2 separate regions of the Homo sapiens genome follow, and region 2 is linked to region 1. Evidence: fine-mapped expression QTL. Tissue or cell type: nasal epithelium. Region 1 holds a variant in brackets; the other region holds the start of a gene. All regions are shown on one strand. Distances are between the middles of the regions.

The links. PIP is the estimated chance that this variant, and not a neighbour inherited with it, causes the effect.
Region 2: CATSPERB starts here. The variant in region 1 is the best candidate, but not a certain one, in a credible set for the expression of CATSPERB in nasal epithelium (TOPMed, PIP 0.52).

The regions. Positions count from the first base shown.
Region 1 is chr14:91,643,786-91,647,785 of GRCh38, forward strand. The region is part of intron 15 of CATSPERB (catsper channel auxiliary subunit beta); the gene reads right to left. Among named protein-coding and RNA genes, the nearest start is that of CATSPERB, 86 kb to the right of the region's middle. RefSeq lists enhancers at 1,575-2,169, 2,170-2,762. The variant C/T (reference allele first, on the strand shown) is at 2,284.
Region 2 is chr14:91,730,084-91,734,083 of GRCh38, forward strand. CATSPERB (catsper channel auxiliary subunit beta) reads right to left here and starts at 2,003. Exons shown (of 27, transcript NM_024764.4): 1 at 1,847-2,003.

The sequences.
Region 1 (4,000 bases):
ATCTGTCTAATGTTGACGGTGGGGTGTTAAAGTCTCCCATTATTAATGTGTGGGAGTCTAAGTCTCTTTGTAGGTCACTCAGGACTTGCTTTATGAATCTGGGTGCTCCTGTATTGGGTGCATATATATTTAGGATAATTAGCTCTTCTTGTTGAATTGATCCCTTTACCATTATGTAATGGCCTTCTTTGTCTCTTTTGATCCTTGTTGGTTTAAAGTCTGTTTTATCAGAGACTAGGATTGCAACCCTTGCCTTTTTTTGTTTTCCATTTGCTTGGTAGATCTTCCTCCATCTTTTTATTTTGAGCCTATGTGTGTCTCTGCACGTGAGATGGGTTTCCTGAATACAGCACACTGATGGGTCTTGACTCTTTATCCAATTTGCCAGTCTGTGTCTTTTAATTGGAGAATTTAGTCCATTTACATTTAAAGTTAATATTGTTATGTGTGAATTTGATCCTGTTATTATGATGTTAGCTGGTGATTTTGCTCATTAGTTGATGCAGTTTCTTCCTAGTCTCGATGGTCTTTACATTTTGGCATGATTTTGCAGCGGCTGGTACCGGTTGTTCCTTTCCATGTTTAGCGCTTCCTTCAGGAGCTCTTGTAGGGCAGGCCTGGTGATGACAAAATCTCTCAGCATTTGCTTGTCTGTAAAGTATTTTATTTCTCCTTCACTTATGAAACTTAGTTTGGCTGGATATGAAATTCTGGGTTGAAAATTCTTTTCTTTAAGAATGTTGAATATTGGCCCCCACTCTCTTCTGGCTTGTAGGGTTTCTGCTGAGAGATCCGCTGTTAGTCTGATGGGCTTCCCTTTGAGGGTAACCCGACCTTTCTCTCTGGCTGCCCTTAACATTTTTTCCTTCATTTCAACTTTGGTGAATCTGACAATTATGTGTCTTAGGGTTGCTCTTCTCGAGGAGTATCTTTGTGGCATTCTCTGTATTTCCTGAATCTGAATGTTGGCCTGCCTTGCTAGATTGGGGAAGTTCTCCTGGATAATATCCTGCAGAGTGTTTTCCAACTTGGTTCCATTCTCCCCATCACTTTCAGGTACACCAATCAGACGTAGATTTGGTCTTTTCACATAGTCCCATATTTCTTGGAGGCTTTGCTCATTTCTTTTTATTCTTTTTTCTCTAAACTTCCCTTCTCGCTTCATTTCATTCATTTCATCTTCCATTGCTGATACCCTTTCTTCCAGTTGATCGCATCAGCTCCTGAGGCTTCTGCATTCTTCACGTAGTTCTCGAGCCTTGGTTTTCAGCTCCATCAGCTCCTTTAAGCACTTCTCTGTATTGGTTATTCTAGTTATACATTCTTCTAAATTTTTTTCAAAGTTGTCAACTTCTTTGCCTTTGGTTTGAATGTCCTCCCGTAGCTCAGAGTAATTTGATCGTCTGAAGCCTTCTCTCAGCTCGTCAAAGTCATTCTCCATCCAGCTTTGTTCCGTTGCTGGTGAGGAACTGCGTTCCTTTGGAGGAGGAGAGATGCTCTGCGTTTTAGAGTTTCCAGTTTTTCTGTTCTGTTTTTTCCCCATCTTTGTGGTTTTATCTACTTTTGGTCTTTGATGATGGTGATGTACAGATGGGTTTTTGGTGTGGATGTCCTTTCTGTTTGTTAGTTTTCCTTCTAACAGACAGGACCCTCAGCTGCAGGTCTGTTGGAATACCCTGCCGTGTGAGGTGTCAGTGTGCCCCTGCTGGGGGGTGCCTCCCAGTTAGGCTGCTCGGGGGTCAGGGGTCAGGGACCCACTTGAGGAGGCAGTCTGCCGGTTCTCAGATCTCCAGCTGCGTGCTGGGAGAACCACTGCTCTCTTCAAAGCTGTCAGACAGGGACATTTAAGTCTGCAGAGGTTACTGCTGTCTTTTTGTTTGTCTGTGCCCTGCCCCCAGAGGTGGAGCCTACAGAGGCAGGCAGACCTCCTTGAGCTGTGGTGGGCTCCACCCAGTTCGAGCTTCCCGGCTGCTTTGTTTACCTAAGCAAGCCTGGGCAATGGTGGGCGCCCCTCCCCCAGCCTCGCTGCTGCCTTGCAGTTTGATCTCAGACTGCTGTGCTAGCCATCAGCGAGATTCCGTGGGCGTAGGACCCTCCGAGCCAGGTGTGGGATATAGTCTCGTGGTGCGCCATTTTTTAAGCCGGTCTGAAAAGCGCAATATTCGGGTGGGAGTGACCCGATTTTCCAGGTGCGTCCGTCACCCCTTTCTTTGACTCGGAAAGGGAACTCCCTGACCCCTTGCGCTTCCCAGGTGAGGCAATGCCTCGCCCTACTTCGGCTCG[C/T]GCACGGTGCGCGCACCAACTGGCCTGCGCCCACTGTCTGGCACTCCCTAGTGAGATGAACCCGGTACCTCAGATGGAAATGCAGAAATCACCCGTCTTCTGTGTCGCTCACGCTGGGAGCTGTAGACCGGAGCTGTTCCTATTCGGCCATCTTGGCTCCTCCCCTCAATGTCATTCTTAATTCCTCTCTCTCATACCCTGCATCGAATCCATCAGAAATCCTATTGACTCTAGCCTCATGATATATGTAGACTCCATCCACTTCTCACCTCTGTCACCACTATCACCCTGTACAAGCCACTGTCATCTCTCTTGTGCCTCCGAATTGGTCTCTGTGATTCTGCCCATAGCTCCCTTCAGTCTGTTCTCAAAAAAGCATCCAAAGTAACACTTTCAAAATGTTAAGTCACTTCATCCACTCTCCTCATCAAAACTCTCCATGGCTTCAACCTCTCTCTCAGTAAGAGTCAAAATCCTTGCAATGCCCTCCAAGGGCCACCGTGGTATGAATTCCAGTCCCTCTCTGACCTTATCTCCTATGACTTTCTGCAATGCTTACTCTGCTTCAGCTACACGAGCCTGAGGTTGTCTATCTCCACAATTAGATAATCTGTTACAGGAATAGCTGGGCTCCTTCCTCTCCAATCTCACACTTTTAATATATTGTTCTTGCCTGTCTAGACTAATTCAGCCCTCCAATACAATGATGAATAGAGGCAGTGGTAGATGACATAGCAAAAGCTTTTGGTGTGTTATTAGAAAATATGATTGGATATTTGCTATAGCTTCTTTCCCCCCTAGATACTCTTAATCAAGAAGTTACATTCTATTCATGCTTTAATAAATGTTTGTTTAAAAAATCATGAATGGCTGGGAGCAGTGGCTCATGCCTGCAATCCCAACACTTTGGGAGGCTGAGGCGGGCAGATCACCTAAGGTCAGGAGGTGGACACCAGCCTGGCCAACATGGTGAAACCTCATCTCTACTAAAAATACAAAAATTAGCTGGGTGTGGTGGTGGGCACCTGTAATCCCAGACAATGCAAATCAGGGCTGCAAATCTCACAGGGGCCTTCCAATGGCCATAACCTCTCAGACAGGTTTTTTTCTCTCTTTTTCTTTTCCTACTCACTTAACAAGACGACTTTGTTGTATTCCTTGGGGATATGTGTGAGTGTGTATGGATTTACCTCTGATTAATCTTTATCGTAAGGGTAGAGCCCTCAGGGGTTCTGGTGTATGGTGGGGCACACCATCTATATTCTCACTACCTGGGTAGACTCAGGGCCATAACTCTTCATTAGTCCACCAAATTCAAAGTCTAAGTTTGCAGGAATTTGTAAATCTCTTCAGGTCAAAAGGACTTTGGTACTGTGTGCCCTCTTTACCTCTCCAAGTATATTAGCCTGTTTGCATGCTGCTAATAAAGACATACCTGAGACTGGGTAATTTATAAAGGAAAGAGATTTAATTGACTCACAGTTCCACATGGCTGGGGGAGGCCTTACAATCATGGCTGAAAGCAAATGAGGAGCAAAGTCACATCTTACATGGTAGCAGGCAAGAGAGCTTATGCAGGGGAACTCCTTTTATAAAACCATCAGATCTTGTGAGACTTATTCACTATCACCAGAACAGCACGGGAAAGGCCTGCCCCCATGATTAAATTACCTCCTACCAGGTACCTCCCACAACACATGGGGATTATGGGAGCTAC
Region 2 (4,000 bases), 86 kb after region 1:
CTCAATTTTCTACCCTCAAAATTCTGAAGTTGAAATCCTAACCACCCTTACCTCAGAAGGCAATCATGTTTGGAGATAGGATTTTTAAACAGGTGATGAAGTGAAAATGAAGTCATTAGGGTGGGCCCTCATCCAATAGGACTGGTGTCCTCAGAGAAGAGGAAATTTGGACATAGGCAGGGTGAAGTGAAGACACAGAGGGAAGACATTCAGAGGGAAGATGAAGGGAAGACACAGGAAGAAGACAGCCAGCCACCTATAAACTCAGGAGAGACGCATGAACAGTTCCTTCCTCATGGCCCTCAGAAGGAATTAACCCTACAGACACCTTGATCTCAGATTTCTAGCCTCCAGAACTGTGAGAAAATAAATTTCTGTTGTTTAAGCCACCCAGTGTATGGGCCTTTGTTATGGCAGCCCTAGAAAACTAACACAGCATCCATGATGAATTTCACCTCTAAGGAACTTGGGGGACAGGAGGTACTGGAGTGAGCAACCTGTGGACACTCTGGCTACTGCTTTTGCTATTAGTAATAAAGTCCTTCGTCTCTGACCTAGGAGTCTTGTGTCTTTTGCCAGCATCCAAGAAAACAGAAACATACTAATTTGCCAACTCTAAGTGGAATAAAATCTCAGAACTTTGTGCAGTTCCTGACAACTGCTGAGTAAATTAAATGTAACTGGTGTTTTTCCTTCATCAAAACTGACTTGCTTATTAAATACATTTAATTGACAATAGAAAGCTCAAACAGTTTGATTTTTTTGAATTCATTCTTATCACATTAACAGGGGAGAACTGAAGGTTTTTAGTGCATTTTTAAAAATCATCTGAGAAAACAACTTGTTTTCACAAGGTAAGAGGAAACAAATGGTAGATTAAAATTCTGTCGGCATGGTGCAATGCTCAAGTATATTTTTGGTGTAAGAACGAATTTAACATTAAGTGGAGACATTATCACAGTTAAACTCTGAAAATAGTCCCTTTACCAGAAAAATCTTATATCACTTTGCTAAACATTCAAATTAAATGATACAACACCATTATTAGAATCTTTATGCCTCTTCATGGGTCACCTGTGCAAACTCGAGAGAGTTAGTATGAAGCACGTGGTGGAAATTCTGGTTTTAATGTCAGCAAGCTTGTTCTGCAAGCTTTCTTATCTGCCATCCTGCAAGCTCAAGAATTTCTGCTACCTACTGGTTTCTTTAATTCTTTGGGGCATAGTTCCAGTCTCATTCTTCTTATTTTCCCTTCAATATTACAACTTTTCCTTATTTGATACTATCTTCTTTCAACTTTCAGCTCATAGTTAGAGTAAAAACATAGACTTTAGCCTAAGACGAAGTCTGTCCATCGAAATATTTGATTTTTAGCAAGCTATTTAACTTCTTGGAGTTCATATTCTATTCAGTAAAATGGGGATAACAGGCACTTCACAGTGTTGTTGTGAGAATTAAATGAAAAATACCTTAAAACATCTAACATATTCTATACAGAATAAGCACTTGACAAGTATTACTTCTGAATTCCATATCTCCATACACTGCAGCAACTTCTTTTTCCTCATCACACTCCCCTACTGACCTACTTAGCAGTTAAATTACCCCCAGTTATCATTCCTTTGTAATTATTATAAGTTTTACATAATTACTGGATACAAGTCATGTATCTGGGCATTTTCTCTTCTCTGGCACTAAATAAACATTGGGAATTGCCCCATTGAAGGAAGCTATTTCCTCCCCCAGTTGGTTCATTTATAGTTACTCCATTATTATGGAATAGTGATCACATTATAAATTCATACTCCAGCAGGGTCCTTATTTTAATATTTTTTACTGTAATTACCTCTTTAGGAGATGCGCAACTAGTTGTGTTCTTCTTTTTTATATTTTTTCTCAGTTTTCTTCCATATAGACTGAGAAGAAAGACCCAAAGTCAGGAGCCAAGTTTTCCCTGTTGACTGGCTTAGCACTCTAGTCACCTTTGGTAACAGCCAATCAGCAGCTACCAAGTACAGAAGCATGCTTAGAAAATCTAAAGGACAGGCAGTTGGAATTTCCAACTAACTGCCTCTTTCAGAGCACCACAGGCCATTTTCTTTAAAAACCGATGAGAGGTGGAGGTTCTCCAAACCTTCCATCTTTAATATAGCATTTATCTAGGAAGGATCAGAAACCTACATATGATTATCTATAAAACACTTCAATGATCATACGATCATTGAATGCCTGGGGAAAAACATAAATGCTAAAAGCTCATGCTAACTGCATATAATAAGGTTTAAAAGGAGGCAATCTCTCAAAGGGGAGGAGCTTCATAACTGGGTCTTTAAGGAAGACTGGGACTTAAAAAAAATAGAGAAGGCCTTATTGACAGGTAAACAAGACAAGCAAATACACAAAGCACAAAGTTAGAAATGAGCTGTGGACGCATGGAAACAGTGAGACCAAATGGCATGCCAGTTTGTCCTCCGTATTCATGTTGTGTGACTGTCCTTGATGTGGTTGTATGTGCTCACTAAGGCTGCCTTTGACTGAGTACCGAGTGAGCTGAGCTTGAACCTTTCTGTCTTACCCAGCGCCCTGACTAGTCATGAATGGTCACAGAGGCTGACACATACTTTTTGATAATCATGATAATAAAACGTGTTTTATACTCAGGTTGTCCTTCAGAAGTCCCTTCACATGGCCATGTAAAACCTGCTTTACCCTCATATCCTGAAATATGTCTGGTATCTGGGTTTAATCTATTCCTGGAAGAGCCCGCATCAGAAATATATTTCTCTCACCCTTTCTGGTGACCTTGACCTAAAGAAGAACCTGAAACAGTGTGCAAAACACAACAAAATATATTTCCTTATAAAGACTCAGTTCCCAGAAACTTGGAGCTCTCTTTTTTTGTTGCCTGTTTCCCACTAGGGAAGGCAATAAAGCTTTTATGGAAGAAGATGTAGCTTTCAGTTACCATAGCAACACTGCTACACATTAAAAAAAAGTCTGAGCAATACTGAAGGTACACATTGAGAGCTCTAAAAAGAATGATGAAGCAGGTGACATTTGCCTTCTTTCTCCCCAGCAACCTCTTAGTTTTCTTTTCCTCATTTGCCCCCACATTTTGTTTCCTAACTTACGAAAGAGTAAAGGATCTGTTTTCAATCACAGTCACTGATGAATTACACTTTGATGTGAGTACCAAGACTACTCCCACAGTAGGTGATTCATCTGTAACAGTGGAATGAAAGGGGTTCTTCTGCCTGAAAAACAAATTATGCACTGGGCTTCCGTCTAGTCAGGAGGATAGGGGGCAAGGCAATGGGCTGATTGAAAGAAGGATGACTTTGACTTTTTTTGTAATTTTTTGCTGGCTATAACAGGGCTTATTATGTGTGAAAAATGAAAACAAGTATAGAGAAATCAATTACGCATAAATCAACAACCAGATATAACCACTGTGGACATTTTGACATTTCTCGAGTCTGTTTCTTCTGCATTTATATGTCCTTCTTTCAGTCATTGTTAGTCTGACCATTTTCTCGTGTAACTCAAGTGTTTTATTTAAGTCTTCGCAGTTGTAGATCTAAAAATAACGGTACCTAATTTACTTAAACATAAAATATTTTTCTATTTCCAGTGTTTTCCTTTTTGAGAAATGTGGTAATGAATAATCCTGAACAAAATTATTTTCCTACATTTAAAAATATTTCCTTAGGATATGAACATGTTTAAGACTCTTGAATGTATGTTGACAAATTGCTTTCCAGAAACCCAGCAGTGAAAATTAGATATAATCTGAAATAATTTGATACATTAAAAAATCTTGTTTTACTTTTTTCAATATTGGTTCAACTGAACACTTATAAATATGCTTGTTTGACATTTTTTTCTTCTATAAATTATCTGGGCATGTTGTTAAACATTTTCTACGGGAAATTTAGTGTTTTGCTTGTGAAATGGTAAAATAACCCCTTGCAATATTTAATGTAAATATTTAACTCAATTT